2 separate regions of the Homo sapiens genome follow, and region 1 is linked to region 2. The links come from fine-mapping of genetic effects on gene expression. A gene starts in region 2. The other region holds a variant in brackets. All regions are shown on one strand. Distances are between the middles of the regions.

Region 1 (16,341 bases), 79 kb before region 2:
CTGCAGATATGTGACTTCTGCATTTCTGCAGATATGTGACTTCTGCATTTCTGCAGATATGTGACTTCTGCATTTCTGCAGATATGTGACTTCTGCATTTCTGCAGATATGTGATTTCTGCAGGTGATTTCTGCATTTCCAAGTGAGGTACCTGGTTCATCTCGTTGGGACTGGTTGGAAAGTGGGTACAGCTGAAGCAGGGCGGGGCATCATCTCACCTGGGAAGCACAAGGGGTCGGGGGATTTCCCTTTCCTAGCCAAGGGAAGCCGTGAGTGACTGTACCTGGAGGAATGGTACACTGCTGCCCAAATATTGTGCTTTTCCCACAGTCTTCGCAACCGGCAGACCAGGAGATTCCCTCCTGTGCCTGGCTCAAAGGGTCCCATGCCCACGGAGCCTCACTCGCTACTAGTGCAGCAGTCTGAGATCAACCTGGGATGCTGGAGCTTGGTGGGGGAAGGGGCATCCACCATTGCTGAGGCTTGAGTAGGCAGTTCTATGCTCACAGTGTAAACAAAGTGGCAGGGAAGCTCGAACTGGGTGGAGCCCACCGCAGCACAGCAAGGCCTACTGCCTACCGAGATTCCACCTCTGGGGGCAGGGCATATCTGAACAAAAGGCAGCAGATAGCTCCTGCAGACTTAAACGTGACTGCCTGATAGCTCTGAAGAGAGCAGTCGCTCTCCCAGCATGGCGTTCGAGATCCGATAATGGACAGAGTGCCTCCTAAAGTGGGTCCCTGACCCCATGTAGCCTGACTGAGAGACACCTCCCAGTAGGGGCCACAGACACCTCATTCAGGCAGGTGCCCCTCTGGGATGAAGCTTCCAAAGGAAGGATCAGGGAGCAATATTGGCTGTTCTGCAGCCTCCGCTGGTGAAACCCAGGCAAACAGGGTCTGGAGTGGACTTCCAGCAAACTCCAATAGACCTGTAGCTGAGGGTCCTGTCTGTTAGAAGGAAAACTAACAAACAGAAAGGAATAGCATCAACATCAACAAAAAGGACATCCACACCAAAACCCCATCCGTAGGTCACCAACATCGAAGACCAAAGGTAGATTAGACCACAAAGATGGGGAGAAACCAGAGCAGAAAGGCTGAAAATTCCAAAAACCAGAATGCCTCTTCTCCTCCAAAGGAACACAACTCCTCGCCAGCAAGGAAACAAAACTGGATGGAGAATGAGTTTGACGAGTTGACAGAAGTAGGCTTCAGAAGATCAGTAATAACAAACTTCTCCGCGCTAAAGGAGCATGTTCTAACCCATCGCAAGGAAGCTAAAAACCTTGAAAAAAGATTAGAGGAATGGCTAACTAGCATAACCAGTGTAGAGAAAAGCTTAAATGACCTGATGGAGCTGAAAGCCACAGTACGAGAACTGCGTGAAGCATACACAAGCTTCATGAGTCAATTCGATCAAGCGGAAGAAAGGATATCAGTGATTGAAGACCAAATTAATGAAATAAAGTGAGAAGACAAGATTAGAGAAAAAAGAGTGAAAAGAAACAAAGCCTCCCAGAAATATGGGACTATCTGAAAAGACCAAATCTACATTTAATTGGCATACCTGAAGGTGATGGGGAAAATGGAAAGAAGTTAGAAAACATTCTTCAGGATATTATCCAGGAGAACTTCCCCAACCTAGCAAGGCAGGCCAACATTCAAATTCAGGAAATACAGAGAACACTACAAAGATACTCCTCGAGAAGAGCAACCCCAAGACACATAATTGTCAGATGCACTGAGGTTGAAATGAAGGAAAAAATGTTAAGGGCAGCCAGAGAGAAAGGTCGGATTACCCACAAAGGGAAGCCCATCAGACTAACAGTGGATCTCTTGGCAGAAACCCTACAAGCCAGAAGAGAGTGGGGGCCAATATTCAACATTCTTAAACAAAAGAATTTTCAATGCAGAATTTCATATCCAGCCAAACTAAGCTTCATAAGTGAAGGAGAAATAAAATCCTTTAGAGACAAGCAAATGCTGAGAGATTTTGTCACCACCAGGCCTGCCTTACAACAGCTCCTGAAGGAAGCACTAAACGTGGAAAGGAACAACCAGTACCAGCCACTGCAAAAACATGCCAAATTGTAAAGACCATCAATGCTATGAAGAAACTGCATCAATTAATGGGCAAAATAACCAGCTAACATCATAACGACAGGATCAAATTCACACATAACAATATTAACCTTAAATGTAAATGGACTAAATGACCCAATTAAAAGACACAGACTGGCAAGTTGGATAAAGAGTCAAGACCCATCGGGGTGCGGTATTCAGGAGACCCATCTCATGCACAAAAACACACATAGGCTCAAAATAAAGGGATGGAGGAAGATCTAACAAGCAAATGGAAAGCAAAAAAAAAGCAAAGGTTGCAATCCTGGTCTCTGATAAAACAGACTTTAAACCAACAAAGATCAAAAGAGACAAAGAACGCCACTACATAATGGTAAAGGGATCAATTCAACAAGAAGAACTAACTATCCTAAATATATATGCACCCAATACAGGAGCACCCAGATTCATAAAGCAAGTTCTTAGAGACCTACAAACAGACTTAGACTCCCACACAATAATAATGGGAGACTTTAACACTCCACTGTCAATATTAGACAGATCAACAAGACAGAAAATTAACAAGGATATCCAGGACTTGAACTCAGCTCTGGACCAAGTGGACCTAATAGACATCTACAGAACTCTCCACCCCAAATCAACAGAATATACATTCGTCTCAGCACCACCTCACACTTATTCTAAAATTGACCACATAATTGGAAGTAAAACACCCTCAGCAATTGTAAAGAACAGAAATCACAACAAACTGTCTCTCAGACCACAGTGCAATCAAATTAGAACTCAGGATTAAGAAATTCACTCAAAACCACACAACTACATGAAAACTGAACAACCTGCTCCTGAATGACTACTGGGTAAATAACGAAATGAAGACAGAAATAAAGATGTTCTTTGAAACCAATGAGAACAAAGACACAACATACCAGAATCTCTGGGACACATTTAAAGCAGTGTGTAGAGGGAAATTTATAGGAGTAAATGCCCACAAGAGAAAGCAGGAAAGATCTAAAATCGACACCCTAACATCACAATTAAAAGAACTAGAGAAGCAAGAGCAAACACATTCAAAAGCTAGCAGAAGACAAGAAATAACTAAGATCAGAGCAGAACTGAAGGAGATAGAGACACAAAAAACCCTTCAAAAAATCAATGAATCCAGGAGCTGGTTTTTTGAAAAGTTCAACAAAATAGACAGACTGCTAGCAAGACTAATAAAGAAGAAAAAGAGAAGAATCAAGTAGACACAATAAAAAATGATAAAGGGGATATCACCACTAATCCCACAGAAATACAAACTACCATCAGAGAATACTATAAACACCTCTATGCAAATAAACGAGAAAATCTAGAAGAAATGGATAAATTCCTGGACACATACACCCTCAAAACTGAACCAGGAGGAAGTTGAATCTCGGAATAGACCAATAACAGGTTCTGAAATTGAGGCAATAATTAATAGCCTACCAACCAAAAAATGTCCAGGATCAGATGAATTCACAGCTGAATTCTACCAAGGTACAAAAAGTTGCTGGTACCATTCCTTCTGAAACTATTTCAATCAATAGAAAAAGAGGGAATCCTCCCTAACTCATTTTATCAGGCCAGCATCATCCTGATACCAAAGCCTGGCAAAAACACAACAACAAAAAAAGAGAATTTTAGGCCAATATCCCTGATGAACATCCATGTGAAAATCCTCAATAAAATACTGGCAAACCGAGTCCAGCAGCACATCAAAAAGCTTATCCACCACCATCAAGTTGGCTTCATCCCTGGAATGCAAGACTGGTTCAACATACGCAAATCAATAAACATATTTCATCACATAAATAGAACCAACGACAAAAACCACATGATTAACTCAATAGATGCAGAAAAGGCCTTCAACAAAATTCTACAGTCTTTCATTCTAAAAGCTTTCAATGAATTAGTTATTGATGGAACGCGTATCAAAATAATAAGAGCTATTTACGACAAACCCACAGCCTATATCATACTGAATGGCAAAAACTGGAAGCATTCCCTTTGAAAACTGGCACAAGAAAAGGATGCCCTCTCTCACCACTCCTGTTCAATATAGTATTGGAAGTTCTGGCTAGGGCAATCAGGCAAGAGAAAGAAATAAAGGTGGGTATTCAATTAGGAAAAGAGGAAGTCAAATTGTCTCTGTTTGCAGATGGCATGATTGTATATTTACGAAACCCCATTGTCTCAGCCCAAAATTTCCTTAAGCTGATAAGCAACTTCAGGATACAAAGTCAATGTCCAAAAATCAAAAGCATTCCTATACACCAAGAACAGACAAACAGAGAGCCAAATCATGAGTGAATTCTCATTCACAATTACTACAAAGAGAATAAAATACCTAGGAATACAACTTACAAGGGATGTGAAGGACCTCTTCAAGGACAACTACAAACCACTGCTCAGCGAAATAAAAGAGGACGCAAACAAATGGAAGAACCTTCTATGCTCATGGATAGGAAGACTCAATATCGTGAAAATGGCCATACAGCCTAAGGTAATTTATAGATTCAATGCTATCCCCATCAAGCTACCACTGACTTTCCTCACAGAATTGGAAAAAACTACTTTAAAGTTCATATGGAACCAAAAAAGAGCCCACATAGCCAAGACAATCCTAAGCAAAAAGAACAAAGCTGGAGGCATCAGGCTACCAGACTTCAAACTATACTACAAGGCTACAGTAATCAAAACAGCATGGCATTGGTACCAAAACAGAGAGATAGACCAATAGAACAGAACAGAGGCCTCAGAAACAACACCACACATCTACAACCATCTGATCTTTGACAAACCTGACAAAAACAAGAAATGGGGAAAGGATTCCCTATTTAATAAATGGTGCTGGGAAAACTGGCTAGCCATATATAGAAAATTGAAACTGGATTCCTTCCTTACACCTTACACAAAGATTAACTCAAGATGGATTAAAGACTTAAATGTAAGACCTAAAACCATAAAAACCCTAAAAGAATACCTAGACAATGCAATTCAGGACACAGGCACGGGCAAAGACTTCATAACTAAAACACCAAAAGCAATGGCAACAAAGGCCAAAATAGACACATGGGATCTAATTAAACTAAAGAGCTTCTGCACAGCAAAATAAACTATCATCAGAGTGAACAGGCAACCTACAGAATGGGTGAAAATTTTTGCAATCTATCCATCTGACAAAGGGCTAATATCCAGAATCTACAAAGAACTTAAACAAAAGTACAAGAAAAAACAACCCCATCAAAAAGTGGGCAAAATATATGGATAGACGCTTCTCAAAAGAAGACATTTATGCAGCCAGCAGACATATGAAAAAATGCTCATCATCACTGGTTATCAGAGAAATGCAAATCAAAACCACAATGAGATACCATCTCACGCCAGTTAGAATGGCAATCATTAAAAAGTCAGGAAACAACAGATGCTGGAGAAGATGTGGAGAAATAGGAATGCTTTCACACTGTTCTTGGGAGTGTAAATGATTTCAACCATTGTGGAAGACAGTGTGGCGATTCCTCAAGGATCTAGAACTAGAAATACCATTTGACCCAGCAATCCCATTACTGGGTATATACCCAAAGGATTATAAATCATGCTACTATAAAGATACATGCACAGGCATGTTTACTGAGGCACTATTCACAATAGCAAAGACTTAGAACCAACCCAAATGTCCATCAATAATAGACTGGATAAAGAAAATGTGCCATATATACACCATGGAATACTATGCAGCCATAAAAAAGGATGAGTTCATGTCCTTTGCAGGGACATGGATGAAGCTGGAAACCATCATTCTCAGCAAAATATCACAAGGACAGAAGACCAAACACCACATGTTCTCACTCATAAGTGGGAGTTGAACACTGAGAACACATGGACACATGGAGGGGAACATCGCACACAAGGGCCTGTTGCAGGGTGGGGGGCTGGTGGAGGGATAGCTTTAGGAGAAATACCTAATGTAAATGACAAGTTGATGTGTGCAGCCAACCAACATTGCACATGTATACCTATGTAAGAAACTTGCACATTGTGCACACGTACCCTAGAACTTAAAGTATAATAAAAAAAAATTGTTTTGACGATAACAATACCTACTTCATGGTTATTGTGAAGATTAGATGAGTAAAAGAAAAAAGGACCTAGAAGAATGCTGGCACATAGAAAGCACTCAAGGATTGCTGGTCACTGTTATTAGCTATTGAATATTTGAGGGAACAGAAAAAATTTCTCAATAAAGTTTGACATGGAAATTTAGATAATATGCTAGTCCAGCTCTCTGGCATATAACATAATTCTAAGAAGGATCTCTCTTTTTAGTAGCCACTCAATACTTCTTGGACATTACTCAGTGATAATTACTATATTCTCTCTCAGAGTATAACAGCTCCTTTCCTGTATGTGAAAACCCCACTGAAGAAAAGTCTCACTTTAGGGTTTTCAAACTTTGAAAGCTGGTTGCAGCTTTAAACTTACAGTTCTTATACAAGTGCAGCATTAAGAGAGTTGCTGTGCACCTGTTAGTTTCTAGCCAATGAAGTTATATCATTCTCAGAGATGTTATTTCTTTTCTTCTTTTCATTTTTCTGAGACGGAGTTTTGCTCTTTTGCCCAGGCTGGAGTGAAGTGGCGCGATCTTGGCTCATTACAACCTCCGCCCCCTGGGTTCAAACAATTCTCCTGCCTCAGCCTCCCTAGTAGCTGTGATTATAGGCACCCACCACCATGCCCAGCTAATTTTTGTATGTTTAATAGAGACAGGGTTTCGCCATGTTGGCCAGGCTTGCCTCAAACTCCTGACCTAAGGTGATCCACCCGCCTTGGCATCCCAAAGTACTAGGATTACAGGCGTGAGCCACCATGCCTGGCCATGGGATGTCATTTTTGAGTTTGGTTAATGTACAGGCAATTCTGCAATATCTATGTTTAAGACATTAAAAGCATGGTTTCTAATACTAGACTACTTAGGATTGAATCTTGGCTTCACTACTTCCTAGCTGTATGATCAAGGGCAAATTGCTTAATCTCTCTGTGCCTCAGTGTTCTCAGTTGTAAAACGGGGATAATAAACACGGTTACTGTGAGTACCAAATTAGTTAATACATAACGTAAAACACTTTAAACAGTGCCTGACATCTAATAAATGCTATCTAAATATTATAATAGAAATTTATGGTTAAAATAGAAGAATTAACTAAGTTGAAGGACTGTACAATAAGCCATCAATATGTTTCTCAATCCCAGACAGACCCCAGAATGAATTTTTGCAATCTACCTGTCAGTATATATGCACATGTATCTTATTGGAAAACTCAGCAAAATCATAAGATTTAGGTCCTGGCCCTCAACTATTTTCCTTAACAAAATCTACTTTAGGGAGATGCTGTGAAGGTAAAAATTAGCATGTCCCAGGGAAAGCTCATTGCACACTACAAAGGACTATGACAATAACAGGCTTTAGATTTATTTTCTACATTGGCTCTAGCATTTTAGAAGGGTACTTTTACTACTCAAGCCACTTTCCTGCAACTCTCCCCCGAATTTCCCTCCTTCACAGTGGCCAACCTCAAAGCGTTTTCAATGTAAGTGCCTTTCCTGTTAGTGAGACTTCCCTATGAAAATAAATAGTTTAAAGGTTGTTGGAGCCTAAAACTCACTAAGCC[T/C]GGAGAGAGATGTGACTGTCATCTGAGTTACACGTGGTTACAACTTCTGTTTCTCAGATTATAGATTAACTTGCTTTCTTATTTTTCTTGTTCTATACAATGGCTAGAGAGAATTAAACGAAGTTAAGGACAAAAACTTCCTGCCTTCTTAATGATCCTTATAGATTAACTTCTGCTTTGTTGCCCCGGTTTGCTTAGACCAGATGACAGAAAATCCTTTATGAAAAATGTTAAATGTACACTTCCCAAAAAGAAACACTGTCTATAATCAAATTGTTGTAACTATTCTCTAACCTTGTATGAGAAAATGCTGTAATCCTGCTAAAAAACCTCTCAGTTTCTGCCTATATAAGTGAAATCTTAAATCTCTACTTCGGAACGCTGACTCCTTCCTTGGAGTCGGTGTTTCTAGGTAGGCTATCCTCAAACTTCGCGCTTTTGATTATTTTACATTGACACCTCCTGTCATCCGCAAGCTCAAAGGCAAGGCTAATAAAAGATGGCAGAGAGCCAATTAGGGACAGAGCCATGTAATCCTCATACCCAGGTGAGTTTAGGGCAGTCTTGCAGAAGCAGAAGCAAATTGTGGGGTCACGAAACCCTCCGGACCCGCCCGCCTCCACCACCACGCGCCCCTATGACCTTCGACCCCTCCCTAGCCCCAGAGCACGCCGGGAGTTGTAGTTCCCAAAGGCCTGTTCGGGCCAGCGCAGGCGCTTGGGGTTTCCCTCCCACCCAACCCCCGCACTTTACCGGATAAGGAAGCGGCCCGTGCTGCCACGCAGTCGCCGGAACGCGGGCGGGGGCTTCTGGGAGTTGTAGTCTGTTGGGGGCGTGCGCAGTCGGTAAGGAGACGTAGCTTTCCGTGGGGTGTACCACTGCAGTTGGTTCCCGGCGGGAGACGCAGGGTCAGTCTGTGACTCTTCCCCTACCACGCTCCCGCAGAGGCTGAGGAGGCGGTTTCGACTTCTCCTCCGGCTTTCTGTCTTCGGCACTGTGTGCTTCTTGCTCCGCGGTTTATTTCTGTACCTAGTCCTCCCTCCCCTCTTCGGTCCATCTCCAAAGCCCGGGCTTGGCGGGGACTCGCCCTCCGGTAAAGGCAGGGCCGCGACCTCCTAAAACCCGGTCGCCGCCCTGCAGGAACCTTCCTCACTCGGCCCCTCACACCGGGTTTCCGCACTGACCCTCCTTCGCCTCGGTCCTCGCTGCGCTCACCTCCTTCCACTCTTTTTTTTTTTTTTCTCCTTTGCAGGGATGGAAGCTTCCTGGCGCCAGGTGGCCGGTGGCCGAGGCCGATCCCGGGGACGGGCCACTGCCGCCCCCTCAGGAAATGGAGTCCATCTCCGCGGCGCCGGAGGAGGGCGAGAGAAGGGGTCGGTGGGCGCAGTTCCTTCTGGCACCAGTCCCGGAGGAGTCGCGACCACGGCGGCTGCAGGGAGCAGGCACAGCCCCGCAGGATCCCAAGCCCTGCAGACTACCGCAGCCAGCGGTGAGAATGGCTCCCGCCCGCGTGCTCACCTGGATGCCTCCTAAGGCAGTTACTAGTCAGGACCGCCTCCGCCCTCGCCTTCTTTCTTTCACTGCTTTTCCCCTCGTTCGGGAGTTTGTTATCGGGCCCACTTCTCCAGCCTTTCGGGTGGCTGCTCTTTTCGGCACTCTAGGTAGATTTCCATCGCACCTCTTTCATCTTAATTTTAGGTGGTATTACCTTTGTTACTTCCCTCCACTCTTGCCTACTTGAATCTCCAGACCATCAGTTGTAAATTGTGGCCCGGTGTTCTGATTTGGTCTATAATGTTGTTTGGTTAACACAGAGTTTTAAATGTGGATTGATTGTCAGCGGTTGTTTGTCGTTTTTAAAAATCTGGTTAACAACCTTGTGGCTTTAGTTATCTTTGTGCATGGCAACAGTCAGCTCGGCTGAGTCACAGAAATCCCATTTAGATTGGACTTGGGCATTCCATCTCACATTCTCTCTCATTTCTGGAGCCAGGTGTCATTTGTCATCTTTACCTTTGCCTTTGTTTCTTGACTTGTCTTATTCCTTGTAAGCACTTGAGCTTTTGATACCTTCCTTGACTGTAGTTCCTATTTACAAATTCCATGTCCTTCTGTGGACATATCTGGTGTTGCCTCCGATATATCAATACTTTTCATCCAAGACCATGTTTTCGTGGAGCCAGGGAGGACTTACACACAATTGTGCATGGGGCCGAGGGAATAATCCCTGAAATCATTTTATTTTTGTGTTTGGAATGCATTTCAGGATACATTTTTTTGGGGGGTGTGGAGCAGAATTGAGTATCTTGAATGATTTTTCTCCTAGGCTAATTTGAAAGGTAGGTGGTATTCTCTTAGCATGCAGTTAATGGCCGTGATGATAAGGTATACAATATGGAGACGTGTGAACAGGTTTGGTAAACTTTTTTTTTTTTTTTTTTTTTTTGAGACAGAGTCTCGCTGGTCGCCCAGGCTGGAGTGCAGTGGCGCAATCTCGGCTCACTGCAAGCTCTGCCTCCTGGGTTCAGGCCGTTCTCCGGCCTCAGCCTCCCGAGTAGCTGGGACTACAGGCGCCTGCCACCACGCCTGGCTAATGTTTTGTTTTTTGTTCTTTGGTTTTTTTTTTTTAGTAGAGACGGGGTTTCACCGTGTTAGCCAGGATGGTCTCCATCTCGTGGGTAGAAGGAAAACAAGCATTCTGTCCGGGCGCGGTGGCTCAAGCCTGTAATCCCAGCACTTTGGGAGGCCGAGGCGGGCAGATCATGAGGTCAGGAGATGGAGACCATCCTGGCTAACAGGGTGAAACCCCGTCTCTACTAAAAATACAAAAAATTAGCCGGGCGGGGTGGCAGGCGCCTGTAGTCCCAGCTACTCGGGAGGCTGAGGAAGGAGAATGGCGTGAGCCCGGGAGGCGGAGCTTGCAGTAGCCGAGATTGCCCCACTGCACTCCAGCCTGGGCGACAGAGCAAGACTCCGTCTCAAAAAAAAAAAAAAAAGAAAGAAAAGAAAAAGAAAACAAGCATTCTCTACCTGGACAGTTGAGATTTGGCTGTAAGAAATAATACGTGAGAAGGTTGTCTTGTCAGCTTCTCTTTACTTTGAGATGATGTTAGGTGAATACATTTATCAGGTTATGAATGTTCTCATTATCTCTGTCCAGTTCAGCCTGTTTTCTTATGTATCTTTTAAGTGCTAATTTCCCGTATATTAATGACATTTATCATCTCTTTTGTGACAAGTTTTGAGTTATATATCTCATAGCCAGTTCTTTTTTCCCAGTACTCAAAGCTTGCTAGGTAAGCATGATACACATTTTCGTCGAGGTTTACTTGAAATACTCAATTTGTTTTGTTAATAACCCCTAACCAAACTGGCTGCAATAAGAAAAGGAAAATGTTTCATGAGGGAACATAATCAAGTACGAATATACCACCCAAGATAAGAGAGCTTATCTTGGTAGTGGCTTATCAGTTTTAAGTATAATGTTAATTTTAAAATAGTCAATCAGTAAATTTAAAATCCTCTCAAGATGGGAATTCATGAACTCAGATCAGTTCTGCAGGTTTGTGGCTCCTTTCTTAAACTATGTTTGCTGTCCGTAAGAGCTTATTAACACTTAGTGCTTGAAGAAAATCCCTGTGGTCCTTGCTCTCAAGAAGTTTGAAGTTTCTTTGGGAGTATGTGCAGTGAAGTAATCTGGTTTTGTTTTGCATGATTAATCAAGTAACAAAATGAGAAGTACAGGTAGTGCTGAATAGTGGAAGAACGAATCCAAAATTAACATTCTTTTTGGAATGAAGTTGGAAGAAACATGTTTTCCATGTTAATACTTTGTGTGGATTAATGTAAAATATGTTTTTTTGTGTGACCACAAGAAGTCCATAATAAAGGCAAAAAGTTCTTGACCTAAGAAGCCGATTGTAAATATAGTGGGTGCATAGTGAGTACTGTTGGTACAAACTCTTTGGTAGGGCTGGACTGGACTGGGCTGGGCCGTCGTGTCCTATCCTACCTGTTGTTCAGAAGACGGTAGTTTGAAATACCTACCTTCCCTGATTCTTTATGTGCTCACTGTGGACATGTTCCCTCACTTCTTAAAAATTACTGTGCACAATGTACTTTAAAACATCTTAATTTTTGTTAGTCCTTATTTTGAAGTTGATCACCAGTATTTTGATAGTTTTATTGTATTTTCATATTTTTTTTCTTGATTTGTTAATCACCGTTATCATAAAAATTTGCTGCATTTTAGCAGGATACTTAGAAAAGTGAAAGTTTTTGTTGTGGTATTCTCTTTAGTTGTGTGTCAAGGAATTTGAAAATACTTTTCTCGTGGATTACAGGAAGGTAGAATGCTCCAAAGGTGACTTTCAAATGTGTGTTGTAAAATGATATATTAGCACATTATGCTTTTCTTTTTGAGAGATTGTTTTGCAGAAATGAAACTTTTTTCTTTTAAACAGAGCTAATGTCTCAGAAAAAATTTGAAGAAATCAAGAAAGCTAACCAAGCTGCAGCCAGAAAACTTGTTGAAGAACAGTTTAGCTCTTCATCTGAAGAAGGAGATGAAGATTTTGAAGGAAAACAGGGAAAAATACTTGCAAATACGTTTATAACATACACTACTCAGACAGGTACTGATCTTTTAAATTTTGACTTTTGACGTCAATGAAACTGTATTCCTGACATTTTTTTGGTAATGCCTTTGTTCTATATGGAATAGATTTTATATCTTAAGATGAGCACTGTATGTTATAGAGTTGAATTTTTGTACACTTTGGTATTTGAGTTATATATTGTGTAACACTAATTTTTCTATAAAGCAAATAGAATGGCAGTGGCTCTTTTATAGCCTTAGGAGGCCTTTGTGTGTATTTAATTGGCATTTCAGTAGAATGCTTGGATGGGGCTGCTAAAGCTCCTGAGCGGTGGACTGGGGCAAGTTTTTTCTGGTTGTGATGATTTGATTGAACTAGAGTACTTTGTGTACTCCTTTCAATCTATTCATTTTTTTTCATCATGTTAAATGCGTCTTGAAGTCTTTTTAATTCTTTATTTCCTTATTTTATATCTTATTTACAACATCTGATTTTCATGTATTTATTTTTAGAGTTGGGGTCTTGTTCTGTTGCCCAGGCTGGAGCGCAGTGGTACGTAGTGGTGCGTAGTTCACTGCAGTCTTCAACTCCTGGGCTTAAGTGATCCTCCTGCCTCAGCTTCCTGAGTAGCTGAGACTACAGGCATGTGCACTGCACCTAGCCGTACTTTTTTTAAAAAACCTAAATTTCCTCAGGTTTGACATGTACATTCGTGTTATCTGTGGTTTATATCTGATTGCTCTTAAAGCCACGTTTGTTTATGTGAGAGAGGGCCAAAGTGATGTTGCTGTGTACCACTTTAGTATTAAGTGTAAAAATAGATTATTTTAAATGTAAATATTATTAAACTTTCTGCCTTTTATACTTTAAAATTATTATTAGAAATATTCTTGTATGTAGGCCAGGCATAGTGGCTCACGCCTATAACCCCAGCACTTTGGGAGGCCGAGGCCGGGGGATCACTTGAGGTCAGGAGTTTGAGACCAGCCTGGCCAACATGGTGAAACCCCGTCTCTACTAAAAATACAAAAAAATTAGCTGGGCATGGTGGCACACACCTGTAATCCCAGCTACTCAGGAGGCTGAGGCAGGAGAATTGCTTGAACTTGGGAGGTGAAGGTTGCCGTGAGCTGAGATTGCGCCACTGCACTCCAGCCTGGGAGACAGAGCAAGACTCCGTCTCAATTAAAAAAAAAAAAAGAAAGAAAGAAATATTTTTGCATGTAATGTCAACATTTATTAATATATTTGTAGATATGTCATATTGTTTATATACCTTTTATTAGTAATATATATTTATGCCCTTGCTTGGTTCTTTTTCTTACTTTAGTATACTGTTAAAACCAGGAAAAACCTTACAAATATTTTGGGAAACAATTCTACAGAGGAGAGGTGACTTTCCTAGAGTTAGACAATTAGTAATTGGCAGAGCTGGGTTTAAACCTAGTTGACTTAGCTTTAGAGCCATTACTGGGCTGATTTCATTTTCTCTGTAAAAGCAGGAAAATTCTGAGGAGACTAGACGGTTACTTTTGTACCTGTTTATGGGGAAAAAGCAGCATTGTACAGCAGTTAAGAACATTGACACTTGAATCAGATTGCTACGGTTTGATTCTTGGCTTTGTTACTTGGCTGTAGGATGTTTGACATATTGCTTAGCATCTTAGGGGCTTAGTTTCTTTTGTAAAATGGGTATAATGATACTAAATACTGTAGAGTTGTTAGGATGAAATGAATCAGTATGTGTAAGTACTGTAGTGCTTACAGTAGTGCCTGTTGTGTAGTCTGTGCTGTATATCTGTTTGCTGGAATGTTTAATGTATTTTGTGGCTTGATTATTAGAGATTTTCTATCGTAACTGCTGCTTTCTTTTAAAAAATTTGTTTCTTTTTTTTTTTTTTTTTTGCGACGGAGTCTCACTCTGTCGCCCAGGCTGGAGTGCAGTGGCGCAATCTCAGCTCACTGCAAGCTCCACCACCCGGGTTCATGCCAATCTCCTGCCTCAGCCTCCCGAGTAGCTGGGACTACAGGTGCCCGCCACCATGCCCGGGTAATTTTTTGTGTTTTTAGTAGAGACGGGGTTTTACTGTGTTAGCCAGGATGGTCTTGATCTCCTGACCTCGTGATCCGCCCGCCTCGGCCTCCCAAAGTGCTGGGATTACAGGCGTGAGCCATTGCGCCAGGCCAAAAATTTGTTTCTTTTTTCAGTCATGTCTTCCCTTGATCATAAGGCCCCACATCCTAAGCTCTCTCCATCTACACTATACTAATGTGTTCCTTAGTTATTATCTTGTGCTTTCATGAGAAGTATAAGGCCAGTGATGCCAGGATTCAGGCCTGTTAGTTAGTATGACAGAATCAGAAGCATAGCAGAGTTTGAGCATTAGTTAGCATAAACGCAAATAAAGAGCATGAGAGTTAGTCTTTTTTTTTTTTTGGAGACAGTCTTCTTCTATTGCCCAGGCTGGAGTGCAGTGATGTGATCATAGCTCCCTACAATCTTGAACTACTGAGCTCAAGTGACCCTCCTGCTTTAGCCTCCCAAGTAGCTGGTACTGCAAGCACACACCACCATGCCTGGTTAATTTTTTTAGAATTTTTTTGTAGAGACAGTGTTTTCCTGTGTTGTCAAGGCTGGTCTTGAATTCCTGGCTACAGAGAATTCTCCCACCTCAGCTTCCCAAAGTGGCAGGCGTGAGCCACTGTGCCTGGCTGAGAGTTAATCAAGTCTTCAGACAGAAGGATCGATGTATTTCACCTTTCCCTTCCCAACACATAACCTTGGTGATTAGATAGTTGCCTGAGTATATTGATAGGATCATGAAGATAGTTGTACATCATCAAGTAGGTTTCTAAGGAATTTACCATATCTGCTAAGGAATTAAGATTAGGAAGTTTGGCTGAGAAGTCTAGGTTGGCAAGGTAAGAATTGATAAAAAGTAACTCTAAGGTTAGAGGGTTTCTTGTTTCTGAAGGACCTTATAGAAAATAATCTTAAGAAGTTTTCTGCTTTGAGAGGAACTCACTTAAACCATTCTAGATAGAGTCATTTTATTTTAAAATAGAAAATGCAATAATGTCTTTCAGTCTAGTATGTAGAAAACATTTGTCATTTGTAAGTTTTATTAATTTTTAATCTGGTTTTAATCTTAAAAGTGTTATGGTAATTTTTTTATGCTGTGTTTTGTATAAAATCCATTAGTATATGATTCCCATTCCTTTGCCTCTACCAATGTAAGAAAATCTGATCACTTGATTTAAGAACATACATTCCAGAGTAATGGGATGGTTCCCACCTTAACATTAGTGAATTGAAGACCAGGACTTTACCAAAGGAGTTCATTTTTATTTGAGCACAGCCTTTGCATTTTTGTGATTCTTCTCTCAAATTTCAAACTTGCATGGCCAACTTCCTGATGAGTATCTCTATCTTGCTGGCACGTGGACCCATCAAACTGCTGTTGAAAGAGAACTTATTTATTCTTTTGTTTTCTTAATCTTAATAGCACTACAGTTTTCTCAGTCACCCTCCCAAGCCAGACATCTGGGAGCAGAGATGGCATATGCATGTCATTTACTGCAATTCTCCCTCTGCCCATGTTAGCTCAGCAGACACAGCCCTCTTTCCTTCTGAATCTTGACATGAACATCAGCTTTTAAAACAGACACAATCTCATTGTCACCAAGTCCTCCTAAGTTTTACTTCCTAAATTTCTTAAATCTACCCTTACTCTGCCTGTGTACTGTCATTGCCTACTTCAAGCCTTTACAGCTGCTTAACATGTGGATTAAATCCATATGATAATTGTGAGGTAGATAACTGTTACTACTAGTTTTACAGATGACAAAACTGAGACACATTAGGTAACTTGCTCAAAGTCATTTTTTGCTTAATCTGCTGTAACTGTCTCTTAACTGGTACTTCCAGCTTTCAGTCTTGGCCTCCACATACTCATTTTTCTTTAGTTG
Region 2 (16,341 bases):
GAGATGAGGATATTAGAGCCGTGACCTGAATGACCTCCATTTGAAGATCAGCGAAAAATCTATACGAGAGAAAGCAGTAAGTACAAAGTCCCCAGTTTGGGAAATGCTTGGCACACCTGAGGAGCAGAAAGAAGGGCTGGTGTGGCTGGAGCCTAATGAAATTTAAATTGAGAGGAGGATGTGTCTAGGCCAGTTTATGTCATGCTTGATAGACCAGGGTAAGAAATTTGAGTTGTATTTGAGTTGCAATGGACAGCATTGGAAGGCTTTAAACAAGGAAGAGACTTTTTTTTAAAGACCGCTGGCTACGATATAGAGAAAAGACTATAATGATGCAGAGACAAGTTAAGTTTTATCTAAGTAGTTATACTGATTTGTTCTGAGGGAAATAAAGTAATGCATATTGTCCTTTTAGGTTCAATCTGAGCGAATTAGAGAAGGAATGGAAAAAGTTACCAAATAGCCACTAACAATGGCCTAAGATTGTGAATGTGGTGGTCTTGTTTTCCTCCTTACTTGTGGCATTAACAAAGTGTATGAGCTTCCTATTTGAAATCTGTGGAATATGTATATTGAAATCTTTAGATTTTTTTGGTTTAAATGCTTTTCAGAATTGACAAACTGTTTTTCAGTTAATTTCACATCTAAATTAAATGAAAACAATCTCAAATAAGTACAATTGCTACTGAAATTGTCAAAGGAATTTTGCTGAGGCAAAGCAGTGAAAACATTTCCCTTCTATAAAGAAGTTATGATGCTTGAACTTAATGGCTATGAAGGTTAAAAATTTTAAATACAGATTAATCTCTGTGCTAGTGTTTAGAGAGAGATGACATATAAGAATTTTTTGGCTCTTCATGTTATTTTAAATGCTCATGAGTAATACCAGAAACAGGCTTTATTTGGAAATAGATATACTATTTAAGACAAAATTTGAAGAGATTTATTTTAAAGTGTTCCATTTCTCTTTGAGAAATATTTTTTTTCTTTGCCTAGATACCTGGCACAGTGATGAACTTAATAGAAGATTCTGTCCTCACTATGCATATGGTCTGTGTTGTGGGTTCTTCCACATAAGCAAACAGGTGAAGATTAAGCCAGGCCACCCATGTGGGGGATCTAGCCCACTGCCAAGGGTGACTTTTTAGGGTGCTTGGGCCTCATCCATCCTTTTATAATCAAGATTATTAAAACAATGGGAGATGCTGTATGCTGATCTCCAGAAGAACAAAGAATTAGTTGGGTGTTAAACCAAGAACACTAAAAATGCAGCAGTAGCCAAAATTGCTGTGACCAGGTATAGGACAGTAAAAGGAAGGCTGTAAAAAGAACCTCTGAGGACCCAGGTGACTCTAGCTGTTAATGTCTGTCTGTCCTTGGATATTGGGAACTGAAGCAGATGTCTAAGCTGTAGAGCTAGAGTTGACATGAGATAGCTCTGTCTCTTCTTGGGTCTGTGGAAGTTGCAGTCTTTATCGAGTGGCAGTGATTAGACCACTCTAAGACCCAAGGCTTATGAGGCTGGGGAGCTTCCAGGGTGAGGAAGAAGCAAAGTACTAGCTACTACCTCCTAGAAAAGATGCGAGAATTTGGGAGTGGTGGGAGGAACTGAGAGACCCTGTGATTTCCAGCAACTTAAAGAGACAAGCAAGACCAGGTGTCCACCTGGGAAGCCATTTTTACATATTTTAGAATCTTGGCTTATTGAACAAGCTCAGGTCTATTGCTTACTAAGCTTCTCTTCTTGCTAAGTTTCCAATTAGTAATTTAAGTCGTGCTGTGAAGGATTGTATGCAGTTTGAAACTCCACAGTCCAGATTCATTTGAGTTAACACCTCTGTATCCCATATATGTATTCTCTTAATACATCACCTAATATTTCCAAAGCCCCCCCCCCCAGTCACTGTCATCTGGTCATCCTCTATCTTCTCACAATACTTTTTCCTCATAGCACTAAATAGTACCTGTCCTCATATTAAGTGTCTGTTTATTATCTGCCTCCTTCCCTGGAATGTAAGCTTCATGAGGGCAGGAGTGCAGTTTTGTTTATTACTGTAACCTCAGAGTAGAGAAGCCTGGCCACATAGTAGATGCTAGTATTCGTTTCCTAGGGCTGCTGTAACAGATACCATACATGAGTTACTTAAAACAACAGAAATTTATTCTTTCACAGTTTAGGTGGCCAGAAGTCCCAAACCAAGATATAACAAATTATATCTGCAAAGCCTTTATTTCCACAGAACCACATTCTGAGGTTCTGGGTGGACATTAATTTGGCAGGGAGTAGTGGGGGGACACTAACCTACTACAGTGCTCAGTAAATATTTATTGGGTGAATGAAAATTCAGAGTGTATTCTAAGCTGTAAACCCCTTGGATGTTTTCATCACAGTCTTCTCTTAATAACTGCTACAGAACATAAGGATTAGTTTGTGGTCCCAGATTTTTTAGGCTCCAATTCTGCTTCTACCACTTTCTACTTGTGAGCTCTTAGGCAAGCTATTTAACTTTGTAAGCCTCAGTTTCTTCTGTAAAATGGTGACAATAAGAAATAACAGTAAGTGCCCAATAAGTTTTAACTATTATTATGTGTCTATAGCTATTTTAAAGCACTTTCTATATGTAATCCTCATAACAACCGTATTAGGTGAGCCTATTACACTTCTCATTTTATGACAAAGGAAACTAGATTTGTTTCAAGAATGAAAAACCTAGAAAATTATATGTCACTTTATGAAGTGCCTGGCACATAGTACATAGAATAGCTTAGCTACAATAATATAGATATGTGACTTTACCTCATAACTTTAAGACATCTCAAATTGATTCACAAATCAGAAAAAAAATCTGAGGCATCAGATGTGAGGTGAGGTGAGGTGAGGCATCTCAGTTTTTGCACATATGGTTACTGTTATTGAGGGAGCTCCATGTCATTGAGGGAGCTCCACGTCATTGAGGGAGGACTGGGTGGGATGCTGGCCAAAGGTAGGGGCATATTTAGGCAGTGAAATTGCAGTTATGGGACCCCTCTATAGCACTAGATGTGTGAGAGGACTAAAAATAAAATTCCTTTGAAATTTCTTACAGGGTCATATATTACCTCCTTCCCAATGACTACTGTGGTATATTAGAGTAGGGGATTGATGTCCCAGAAATATTATGTACATCAAACAGAAGATCTACACAAATTGTTTTATCAGATACTGAATATATCAATGGGCTAGAGTGTATTATAGTACATATGGGTATGTTGTTTTCCCCCTTTTGACTAAATAAACTCTCCCCTCTCTGCAACAGGTAAATTTCCAGTTTACCTTTTTCTTGCTGTTTTTAATTTTTTTTATTTTGAAGGCTTTGTATCTTTATATCTCAGCTGAAAATATTACATTCTAACTCCCCAAAGCTATTCTCACATTATTTGCAAGTATTTTTTCATAGTTTACATGTTTGTGTATTTGTTTAATACATTCCACAAGACTGAAAGTCTTGGTGAGGGCAGGAACTCTGTCTAGGTTGTTCATCTGGCAGCCAGCAAACCCAAAATAAGTATTAGTTGAATGAATAGCTAAATAGATGAGCCATGGGGTAGCATATCTGTTTTAGCTACTGCTTGCCTGTTATCATCCTGGGATGCTGCTTGCTTCTCCGTGATCTCTTCTTGTTCTTAAATTGTCTTCAGTTGTAGTACTAAGTACTAATTTGATCTGTAATGTGATATGTGGCTGAAGTTTGCTCTGTAAAATCACCGTTTCCTGAGGTATATTCAATATCTTTAATTTTTCCATAAATCTCTTCAAGGTTTGTGTGTGTTTTCTTTTAAATTATCTAACTAGTTGGATGTATGCTTGAAGTGCTAGACAATAAAAGTTTCAATAGGCTAGAAATGTTTCTTTTTGTAAAATTATTTTAAGAAACTAGATGATGGTTGTCACTTGAAGCTGAAATGCAAATGTAGCTAGTTTTTTTTAAAGAATAATTCAAATAGGTCATTAAAGATTACTATGAGCACACTGCATATTCAAATCAGTTTGAATATGTTTTGAGACTTCTAATAGTTTATGATTCTTGACATTTTAATGAGCACACTGCATATTCAAATCAGTTTGAATATGTTTTGAGACTTCTAATAGTTTATGATTCTTGACATTTTAAAAGTTTATTATAAAGAATATAAAACATCTTTACCCTCATTTTTTATGTCATTACCTTCATGCAAAGAATACCTCAGGTATTAATTCTGGTGCTGTTGGTAACTAGAACTGGTTGGGTTTTCTTGCTAAAAGGAAGTTTAAAAAATGTTTATTTTACACCATTAATGCAATTAGCTTTAGTTCTCAGAGGAACTAAAAGTGGAAAAGTGAGGGAGACTGATCGACCCTATCTCAAATCCACTGACGTAGCTACTTTAATTTCATAGTCCCTGTAGCACCTCCACCAGAGGGCAGAAAGTGGAAGAGAAAGAAGATGAAATAGAAACTTGTACTTGGCCTCAGAATGCCTGTAGAAACCTTAGCAATTGAATCCAGCCCTTATGTTATAGGCTGAGTTAACTGTGGCCCAGAAAGACTATGTGATTTGCTCACAGTTCTTGATTCCCAGACTGGCACTGCGGTGATGGTGTGTGATGAGGTAGTATCTTAGTAAGAACACAATCCAGAAGTCACTGCCTCGGGGGAATCCCAGCTCAGCTTCTTGCTAGCTTGCGTAGGCTGGTTACTTCACTTCAGCTCCCTGAATCTGCTTTCTTATCTCTAAAATAAAAATAATAGCTTCTTCCTCAGAGTAGTTGGTGGAACTGAAAGAATACATGTAAAGTGCTTAGTATGACACCTGCCACATAATATGAACTGAATTATTGTGAATTATGATAAATTTGTCAGATACTGGTTTACAAATCGGATGTTAGAATAACATGGAATCAGTGTTTCAGTCATTTTACTATACATATGCAATATTTTCTACATTTGATCTCACTTCAGAAACAAAATACTGCCCCCCCCATTTTACAAATGCATATTTTTTTCTCAGCAATAATGTTCAAGAACAAGTGCTTGGCCCATATTTTGTTGTCTTTACATGGCTTTCTTTAAATAATGGGGATGGATTTATTAAATAACCTCATGAGTAATTTTCAAAATTTCCATTAAGATCTTGATTGAAATTGGATGAAAAATCATTTCTAAGAAAAACCCAATGAAGTGTTTTTCTTTGCCACATTTGACAATTGCCTTGGACTTGGTAAAGTAATCATTACTGTGTTGAGTACCTCCAGTGCCCTCCTTGACGCTGCCTTAGAAAAGGTAGCTGCTTTTGAATGACAGGCAGGAATTTGTTCGCCTTTTAGGTTCAGCCTGTAGGTGCCCTCTGCAGGAAATCAGGAACTAGGGTTTTGGAAGCAGTCAGGGTGGGGTTCTCCCTTGTCCCTGCAGCCTCAGCAAAGACTCAGGCAGTCTGGCAAAAGCAGTTTCTTCAGCATACCTAACAGAACGCAAGTTTCCATATGCCTGATGCAAATAATGGCCTCCAAACGTTAAACCTTTTTTGAGATAAACTTGTTCTTTAATTGCCAGCGCCTGCAGTTAATTTTGATTGGCTACACTCTGGTTAAAAGAAAATGCTTTCGATGTGATATGGCAAATTTGGAGAAAAGTAACTCTTTTGCTCCCAACCAGTCTTCCACAACTTAAACTTAATCGTCCTGTCCTTTTCTGCTGCCCTCGTGGAGTGTAAGTTTTTGAGGGAGACCAGCAGAAACTGACTTTCCATATGCCCCTGAAGAATAACTTCTTTGAATGCAAAGAGGTGGGGACACGGAGGATCTGTCATTACGGGTTATTATGGGTGGGACCCAGAGACGGGAGTGAAGGGAGGGTGTGGCCCGCGGGTGGGATCTGTAGAGCAGACAAAATATGGGGCCCCTGGCGCTTAAAGTTCAGTTTGTCTCTCTTGAGCTTGGAGAAAATCATCCGTAGTGCCTCCCCGGGGGACACGTAGAGGAGAGAAAAGCGACCAAGATAAAAGTGGACAGAAGAATAAGCGAGACTTTTTATCCATGAAACAGTCTCCTGCCCTCGCTCCGGAAGAGCGCTGCCGCAGAGCCGGGTCCCCAAAGCCGGTAAGATCGATGATTCGCTGTCCTACCGCAGCCAGGTGTGATGGCCTCTTAGTCCCGGTGAATTCAGGGTCAGCCCCTCCCGCCCCCGTCCTCTCCTCCGCCCGATGCCACCTCCTTCCCCAGCCGCCGGTGAGCTCCCGCTCTGACAGTTCCGCGCTCAGCGCCCTGCACCCAGTTCCCAGGCGCACGGCCCTGGTCCCGACCACCACCCCGGTCGCCCGGCGTCCGAGACCCTCCCAGGGTCATGGGCAGGGTTTCCTTCAGTGTTCGAGTCGGCTCGATCCGGAGACCCCGGTCTCCATGCCGGGGGTGATGCCACCTTTCCTGCAGAGTCCCTCCTCCGCACGGTGCCCTCCAAGCATCTAGTGGACTTGGCTGCACACTGGCGGCAGGGGAGGCTGCAGGTGGAGCTGTCGGAGCCAGCCCCTCGGGGATCTACAGCTTCCTGTCTGCGCCGGCGTCTCGGGCGCCGGGTGGCTGGAGGGACTGTGCAGCAGTCTTGCCTGCCCCAGACGTAAGCCCCCTTCCCCAGCTGCGAGCGCCTGGGTGTCGGTCCCTCCACAGCCCGGGCTCGCGCTTGGTTCCCCGGCCCCCAGTTGGTGCCTGGGGATCACTCGCCCGTCCTAAGTGCTGGCATCCCAGAACTGGCCCTCTTGCAGAGTGCTGGGAACTTGTAGGTCCCTGCGTGCAAACTTTCTCCGGCGTGAACCTGCCTAGGCACAGGAGGGCTGGCCGCCGGGGGCGCAGGCTCTGCGCTGTAGGATTTGGTTGGCTCAGATCCAGTCCTGGGAAGGGGCAGCGTTGGCTCTCGTTCAGGAGGAGAAAGAAAGGGAAGGGCACCACGGACAGTCCCTACTGGCCTGAGCCCCCAGGAAGAAGGTCTAATTTGCGGCTGCCCCTCTCCTTCGGTGTCATTAGGGCCCCGGAATCCGCTTGCTACCGCGAGGGTCCCAGCTGCTCCGAATCGGGGACCGACCGGTGACGCTAGCTGCAGGCAGAGAGGGCAGGCTGTGCGGGCGGAAGGGAGGTGGTGTCTTGTCGGATCTTACTGGGACCCAGTTCCTGAGCTCCCGTGGCAGGCGCCTCACTCCTGCTACTACCTGCTCGGGGCCAGTGGATGGCAGTGTACGCGCTTTTTGCACGGCTCCCGGTTCCTGGGACCGAGCCCTGGGAGCTCTGACTTTGAATTCAGCAGGGAAGCTTCGGGGCTGGGCATTCCCAGGGAAGCTGTTCGAGTAATTCATAAAGTGGAGCTTTCCTCCCGCGGGAAACTTCTGAGAACGATGCGCTGCGAAGACGGACTCCTGTACAAGACTTCGATGACTGACATAGGCACAATTGTGGCTTCTAGTTTTTATTTTAACTTTTTATTTAAAGTAACTTATCGATGGAAGCGAAACTCTGCAAAGGAACGTCAGACCGCTACCAGAAAGGGGGTGAAGTCAGGACTTACTGGTGATTATTGTCCAAGGACACATTTAAGCAGATAGTTTTGAAATTAATTTTGGCATAACCCTGAGACAATGAGAAGAAACAATGCATTTATAAAAAGTTATTAAACCATTTTTTTTTGTCACAGTCAAAACATTCATTAGCTTGTTTCTATTATTAGGTGCCCAATAGGTTTGTTGTGTGAGATTGTGCTAAAAATTGGTCCTCAGATCCTGGGACTTGAGAGGTTAGAGGAGGTTCCTGGGGCTTGCGAGGTTAGAGGAGATGTCTGCATAGACTCACGTGTGGGCTTGGCTGACCAGGCAGGTTTTCCATAGAATGCTTTCCAGGACACCAAGAATTTCAATAGGATGAACTATTTTGGGGTTATTTGGGTGTGGAAACACATCAACCTCAAAACCCCAAGATTCTATAAGGCATTTTTTAAGGGGGAGGGGACTCTTTCCAGAAAGTTCCTTTCAGGGTAGGCTTACAGGACCAACGATGAAAGCCTCTGTTAACCTTCCTGTGGGTTAAAAAGACACACCAAGAATTGCTCTATTAACCTTATCAAGCACATATCCAGGTACAGAGACACTTTCTTAAAAGATGCAAAATTCATTCCATCAGAAACCTTCCTCATAATGCTGCAGAAATCACAATAGCAACAGCATAGAAGGCAGGCATCAGTGCTTCCGCATCTTGCATTCCACAACCAGCTGTGGTTTCCTTTTGGAAGGGTCACATTCTCCACCATAGCTTCATGTGGATTTCAGCAGTTGCTAGTTCTATTGACTGGCCAGCCCCTCTGTTGACCTCCCCCACTGTTGGGGGCAGACAGGAAGTTAGAGGAGAAGCTGAGTGGCCCAGGAGCTTCAGAGAGTCACTTTCAAAAGCCTGTACTTTCAAATCTCCATACTGTTAATGAGGTACTCCTTTCCTTATTTTTCCTCTTTTCCGCACTTGTAGCCTCTTTCAACACAAAGACTTGTGGTCTTAGGGTTTCTGAGTGTCCCCACTGCTGGGGTAATAAGAGCTCTCTGAGGAGCAGGAGAGCCGCAACACTGAATTGTTGCTGAGCGTATCTGAGGGGGAAAGGTTTGTTTGACCTGCTACTTCTACCTAATAAGTTATTCAACAAGTATGGATTCATGCATCCTGTTAGCCCCATCACTATTCTTGGCATTCCATTTTGCTGGACCAAATGGAAAATGAGGCTGGCTGGCTAAAGGGTACTGACCTGATACTGGCTGGCTAAACATACTAGGTTCACACTAAACACTCAAGGGATTCCAAGACTTACCTGTTCCTCAGAGTCTACACACTCACATAAAGACACACACAGACATAATACACTTGTTTGTTTTATGTCTGTTCAGAGAGGGTGGAAATGGCAGACCCCTTAAGAGTAGAAGGTGCTGTAGATGACCTGCCTTGGTGGGAAGAGTAGGAGCTTTGGTGTCAGACCTCTGACTCTGCCCCTTAAGAACCGCAAGGCTCTGGGCAAGTCAAATAATCTTGCTGGGCCTCAGTTTCCTTGGTCAGAAAATGTAGATGGTACTACTGACCACTGGTAAGGACACTGCAGACTGTGGAATACGTACTAGAAGTACTTTATGTAATAGTGGTATATTCTGGTGAAGGTTCCCTAACCTTTTTTTAAAAAACTACTTTATTGAAGTATTGGCGAGCAAAAACCTGTATATATTTAATGTAAACAATGTGATAGGTTTGGAAACAAGTATACATCTATAAAACCGTCACCACAATTAATGTCACAAACCTATCCATCATCTTCAAAAGTTCCCTTCTGCCATCTTTATTATTGTTATTATTATTTTGTTATAAGGACACTTAACATAAGATCTACCCACCTAGCAAATTTTTAAGTATAGAATATAGTATTCTTAACTACAGAAGCCATGCTGTGTAGTAGATTTCTAGGACTTATTTATCTTGCATTACTGAAACTTTATACCCTTGGTCCAATACCTCCCCATTTCCTCCTCCTCTGGGAAACCACCATTCCACTCTCTGCTTCTATGAGTTTGACTGTTTTAAGATTCCTCAATTAAGTGGGATCATGTAGTATTTGTCCTTCTGTGTCTGGCTTATTTCACTTAGCATAGTGTCCTCTAGGTTCATCTCTGCTGTCAGAAATGGTAGGATTTGTTTCTTTGTTAAGGCTGAGTAATATTGTACTGTATGTATATATACATACTGTTTATATATACCCCATTTTTCTTTATCCATTCATCTATCAGTGGACATTAGGCTGCTCCTATGTTTTTGCTATTGTGAATAATGCTGCAATGCACATGGGAATGCAGATGTCTTTTCAAGATCCCAATTTTAAATTCTTTGGTTACATATCTAGAAATGGGATCATATGTTAGTTCTATACTGTATGCTGGTATCATATGCTGGATCATATGATAGTTCTATTTTTAATTTTTTTGAGGAACTTCCATACTCTTTCCCATAATGGTTGCACCAATTTACATTCCCATGAACCATATACAAGAGATGCATTTTCTTGGCATCCAACACTTGTTATCTTTTGTTTTTTGATCACATTAACAGTGGCAAAGGGCTGAAATCTCTTTGTGGTTTTGATTTGTAATTCTCTGTTGATTGGTGATGTTGAGCATCTTTCATATACTTACTGGCCATTTTTATGTCTTCTTTGGAGTAATGTCTATTTAGGTCTTTTTCCCATTTTAAAATCAGGCTATTAGCTTTTTGGCTACTGAATTGAAGGAGTTCCTTATATATGTTGGATATTAATCCTTTATCAGATATATGATTCGCAAATATTTTCTCCCACTTTATAGATTGCCTTTTCATTTTGTTGATCATATCGTTTGCTATGCAGAAGCTTTTTAGTTTAGCATAATCTTATTTGGTTATTATTGCTTTTTTTTTTTTTTTTTTGCCTATGCTTTTGGTGTCGTATCCAAGAAATTATCGCCGAGATCAATGTCAAGATTTTCCTTTATGTTTTCTTTCAGAAATTTTACAGTTTCAGGTCTTATGGTTAAGTCTTTAATCCATTTTAACTTGATTTTTGTGCATGGCATGAGATAAAGTTCCAATGTTATTCTTTTGCATATGTGTAGCCAGTTTTCCCAGCACCATTTGTTGAAGACATATCTTTCCTCCATTGTATATTCTTGGCATCCTTGTCAACTATGTATGTATGAGTTTATTTCTGGGATCTCTCTTCTGTTTGGCCATATGGCTGTTTTCATATGAGTACCATACTGTTTTGATTAGTGTAGCTTTGTAATATATTTTGAAATCATGACGTATGATACCTCTAGCTTTTTTTTTTCTTGCTCGTAATTGCTTTGGTGATTTGTTTCCTAATCTGTTTTTACTTGAGGATCCAGTCTCATCCTAGACTTGGTGAGAAATGTCTCAAGACTTTTTCCACAGGCAGCTTTCTGTGACTCTAGAGCCATGTGATGCAATGGAGTAGCTCTTAGCCAATTGTGGTTGTTTAAATTTAATCAACATTAAATCAAATTAAAAATTTATTTCTTCAGTCTCCTTGGGCACATTTTAAGTGCTCAGTTATTTTATAAAGCTGGTGGCAACTGTATTGGGCAGCACAGATACATGATCTCCTTCGTTGCAGGCTGTTCTCTCAGGCAGTTCTAGAGCTTTCTTTTGCTTGAGTGATGATATAAGATTTTAGGATGATAAAAATTTTCCTAGGCCAAGGCACAGTGGCTCACTGGGATTACTGGAGGCTGAGCCAGATGGATCACCTGAGGTCAGGAGTTCGAGACCAGCTTGGCCAACATGGCAAAACACCATCTCTACTAAAAATACAAAAAAATTACCAGGGCGTGATGGCACCTGCCTGTAGTCCCAGCTACTTGGGAGGCTGAGGCAAGAGAATTGCTTAAATCCGGGAGGCAGAGGCTGCAGTGAGCCGAGATCATCCCAGTGCACTCCGGCCTGGGTGATAGAGCGAGACTCCATCTCAAAAAAAAAAAAAAAAAGAAAAGAAAAGAAAGAAAGAAAGAAAAGAAAAGAAAAAGTTTTCCTGTAAAGCACCTCTATTTGCTTCTTTTTCTTTTAAGAAGTGGTTTCCTATAGCAGAATCACTTCCGTTTGTTGAGGTCTCTTACGTGGCCTAGGCATTTGTTGAATAGTAAATGGCCAGATTGATGTATAAATCACTGACAAGTGAGTATTAGTCACATAATCCTCTGAGTTCTCCCCTTCAGCCTTGATGATTTTGCTTATGTATTGTTCTTTTCCCTCCCTATGAGCTTTATGGCCGATGATTTTCCTGGTTTTACAGCAGAAACTAATACAACAGAAGGAGGCTCTTCTCCCTCCATATGTACTCCTACATGTTGTACCATTTTTTACAAGAATGAAAGCACTATAATACTAAGTACAATGTTTGGGGGAAAGATCCACCAAGTGTTTAATTTAATCAGGCTTAAAAACTAATACTCCACCTCACTACGTAGGACCCCTTCTTGAACTCATCCTCATTTGACAAACTATATATTTTACTTCCATGGCCTTCCTGGTGTGTGTTTCTGTGTGTTCTCTTATTATAAGAACATCAGTCATATTGGATTTAGGCTTCACCCTAATCCAGTATGACCTTGTCCTAACTAACTTCAACTGCAAAGACCCTATATGCAAAGGAAGGACACATTTTGAGGTTCTCGGTGAACATATATTTTGGAGACACTATTCAACCCATTACAGATGCATAGATAGGTCAGTCTTTTCCCTAGCTGGATTTCTTACCCCATGAAGTATATTCTGTTCCTGAGGCTTTACTAAATCTGCTTTAGTGCAAGCACAATCTGTAATGTTTATTATTCTCATGGACAGACGATCATCATGCAGGTTGGGAGATTATGTTCTGCTAATGAGCGCTTTCTACCTGGGTGTGGAACACATGGGATGACTCACCTTGGGACTGCTGAATCAGCTGTTCTTCCCCAAGCCTGTCACTGTCCCCAGTTCTGTCTTCAGTCTCCACCCTTTCTCTTCACTCATAAAGAGCCACAGTCATCCTGGAGCAGTGGCTAGTCTGTTTGCCTCTTTCTTGAGCCTTCTGCATTGGCGTTTGGTCTGCTCTGAGCTCTGCTGAAGGGTGCCCATTAATTATGCCTTCCCTTCTGCCTGCTGGCAGTTGTCCCGATCAGCTCACCTTACAGCAGCTGTTTGCATATTCTCCTGCAATACATTTCTACATGTCCAAACCATCAGAGCTGGTGGTGACAAATGCAGTGTCAATGCTTAATCAGGCTGGTTGAGGATCCAAGGTTGTCCTGTAGGTGATCCATCTTGTCATTAATGTCAGTGCTGAAACTCTGTAAGAGGCTCAAGATGACATCTGTGGAGAAGGGCCAGTCGGCCAACAGGCTGGCTTAGGAGCAGGGCAGAAAATATAGAGGCGAGTTGCGAAGACCATTTTGGTGTCTCCAGCTTGTGCTTCCTTAGCCCAGGGTCCCTTCAACCTGTTAACCTTTAGGTTGACAGCACTTGAAGAGTACTTTTTGTTTGTAGCACTTTGGGGGAGTTTTAAAGTCCTATGCAGCTATGAAAGTAGGTGTCAGTGTCTCTGAAGCCACAAAAGTGTCATTCTGCTGAAGTGTCATAGATAGAGATTGACAGTACCAGGAAATCTTAATCTGAGACTCCAAGAACCTCCTGAATGGTGAAAAATCTTTTTATGCATAGTTCTGTTTGAATTTTTCTGGTAATAGCACCACAACTTCCCAAGAAGTGAAAGCCATAGCTAGACCTAAATAGCTTTAATGTATGAGAATTCAACTATACAGGCTGGACAAAAAGAATACATTCATCTCCTTATTTAACAAACATTTATGTGACAGGTATATTATTAGGCACTTAGGAGACATCTATGAACAAAACAGGGATTCATGCACTTGTGAAGCTTGGTTTCTAACTAAGCAATAAACCCTAAACCATGAGTGCAGGGAGGAGAGATGAATGTTTAATTAATATGAGTCATTCTATTCAGTGTCCTGGAGTAAGAGCAAAAGATGAGAGAAAGGAATCTGCCATTAGTTTCAGAACCTGGTGCCTTTTATGTGTATCCTTTTTGCAGTTCCACGTGTGATCCTGGGTTTAAAGATTGTGCCATTTTATTCCCTAACCTCAAGCCAATTAATTAATCTGGTACTCAACCGATGAGCCTGTTCCAGCTCTGAAACAAAAAAAAAACAAACACCATGTGGGATTTATTGTTGGAAGTTACATTGGTCTCCAATGTGACACTCTCTTAAGGCTTTTCAGGGATTAGTTTGACAGTACATGATTTTCATCTTCATGTGCCTATTTTAGAGCCTTATTCTGGGAGCAAGATGCTACTTCTCTGTAGTGTGGTTTGGAAATCAAAGCTATATTGTTTTATTTACTATTTCTCTGTCATCCTTTAAAACAGTTTTGTCCAAGTCAAGCATCATCAGAAAGGGGAGTTCAATAAGAAGTTGGTATTAGGTTGCTGAGATTTTACAGAAGTCAGTTAACCTTTTAGATCCTGGTTTACTTGTGTAAAATGAGGTAGTTGGACTATTTACTCTTTCAGGGCCTTTTTCAATCTAAAGGCTATAATTTTTATGTGGCAGCAGAAAATGAGCAGGACACTGTCCCATTTTACTTTATTGTTTCTCTCTTCCCTTTCTGATAGCTGACAAGTGGTGTGTTTTTTCCTTCCTGACACCAGATGCATGGTATCTTTCCTGACACCACTGCTGCAACTCTCTGACACCAACTGGGTGTCCAATAATTCAACTCAATTCTGACACTATCTACCTGGAGTTAGTGCCAGATCCCACAAGACTGCCCCCACTTTAGATGACAGTTGCAAGTTCTGGGCCACCTGCACTTCTGACTGATTGGCCATGAATCAGGGGTTCCCATAACTCCCTCCCTCTTCAGGTTTGATAATTTGCCCTGATGGCTCACAGAACTCAGGACAACACTTAACTCACATTCACTGGTTTATGATAAAGGATACGAATGAACAGCCAGATGAAGAGGTGCCTAGGCCAAGGTCCAGAAGGTCCAGAAGGTCCAGAAGGGTCCTGCCCCAGTAGAAATATAATGTTAGCCACAGATGTAATTTTAGATTGTCTAGTAGCTGCACTGAAAAAGCAAAAAGAAACAGATAAATTTGAACTTAATAAGATAGCTTAACTCAATGTATCCAAGATTTCATAATTTTAATATGTAATCAACATAAAAATTAATGAAATATTTCACCTTTTTTTTTTTTTTTTTTTTTTTTTTTTGAGACGGAGTCTCGCCCTGTCACCCAGGCTGGAGTGCAGTGGCGCGATCTCGGCTCACTGCAAGCTCCGCCTCCCGGGTTCACGCTATTCTCCTGCCTCAGCCTCCTGAGTAGCTGGGACTACAGGCGCCCACCACCATGCCCGGCTAATTTTTTGTATTTTTAGTGGAGACGGGGTTTCACCGTGTTAGCCAAGATGGTCTCGATCTCCTGACCTCGTGATCCGTCCGCCTCGGCCTCCCAAAGTGCTGAGATTACAGGCATGAGCCACCGCGCCGGGCCTACCTTTTTTTTTCATAACAAGTCTTTAAATTTCACTACCCTTACAGCATTTCTCCATTCAAATGAGCTACACTGCACATGCTCAATAACGACATGTAGCAAATGTCTGCGGTATGAGAGAATACAGGGTTATATGGTGTGAGATGGTCTGAACAATGACCCCTGGAATAAACCCACATCTTAATCCCTGAGACCTGTGAATATTATTTTATATGTCAAAATTGTCAAAAGGGACTTTGCAAATGTAATTAAATTAAGGATTTTGAGATGGGGAGATTATCTTGGATTATCTGGGAGGTCCTGATGTGATCACAATGCCCTTAGAAAGTGCAGGAGCTTCTGTCCCCATGGAGTTGGAGTGCTCCCAGAATGTAGATGTGTTCACCAATTCAGAAACTCTAAGCCCTGACACTTAGGGGTTTTTATGGAGATTTTGTTCATCACACAGGCATGAGTATGTGGTTATTAATTCAATGTCTAGCCCTCTCTCCTCCCAGGAGGTTGGGGAGTAGGGCTGAAAACTCTAGGCTTCTAATCAAAGTTTGGTTTTTCTGGAGACCAGCCCCTATCCTGAAGCTAGCTAGGAGTTTTCAAGAATCCAAGAATCACCTCGTTAGAACAAAAGTTAGAACAAAAGGTGCTCTTATCACTCTTATCACTCAGGATATTCCAAGGGATTTAAGGAGTCCTGTGTCAGGAATTGGGAAAAAAAACAAACACATACTTCTGATTATGCCATAGGAGTGCTGCCTGGGTAAGGGGCATCCTACATGACCTTAGTGTCCACTTCCCTCTTAGTGGGCATTTGCTAATTCTTCTTACAGTGACCCTCTGCCAAAGTGAAAAATTGCCTGTTCAACCCCAAAAGACTGATCAGAGGAAAGCTGGGAGGCAGTTTAAACTACCATAGCTCTGGTTTCTCTGAGGGTATCTACTCTGGCTAGAGGTCAGATCCGAACATCTTACCTATGTATGCAGCTATGGGTGGTGAACAGAACGAGGAGAGACAGTCATTGGTATCAGGGCTCTTCCACCAGATGGCCCAGGATCAAGCTGGGTGCCAGGTGTGCCTCTGGGTGCTGAGGAAGTGTGACACAGGAGAAAATCTTCTTTAAATAACTGGGTGGGAAATATGCCCCTATGCCTTCAAAGTTAAGAAATAATTTTTAAAAAAACATAATAAAAATGTGCTCAGAATAGCAAAAGAGCAGAACTTT

What was found.
Region 1: its variant is fine-mapped to the expression of CORIN in whole blood (TOPMed, PIP above 0.99).

What each region holds. Positions count from the first base shown.
Region 1 is chr4:47,906,891-47,923,231 of GRCh38, reverse strand. NFXL1 (nuclear transcription factor, X-box binding like 1) reads left to right here and starts at 8,649. Exons shown (of 23, transcript NM_001278624.2): 1 at 8,649-8,867; 2 at 9,027-9,263; 3 at 12,238-12,408. The coding sequence starts at 9,029. LOC101927157 (a long non-coding RNA gene) reads right to left here and starts at 9,005. Exons shown (of 3, transcript NR_125879.1): 1 at 8,528-9,005. RefSeq lists enhancers at 1-500, 8,669-8,898, 8,409-9,094, 9,095-9,781. The variant T/C (reference allele first, on the strand shown) is at 7,775.
Region 2 is chr4:47,827,660-47,844,000 of GRCh38, reverse strand. CORIN (corin, serine peptidase) reads left to right here and starts at 5,934. Exons shown (of 22, transcript NM_006587.4): 1 at 5,934-6,114. The coding sequence starts at 6,052. LOC101927179 (a long non-coding RNA gene) reads right to left here and starts at 12,656. Exons shown (of 3, transcript NR_125881.1): 1 at 12,493-12,656.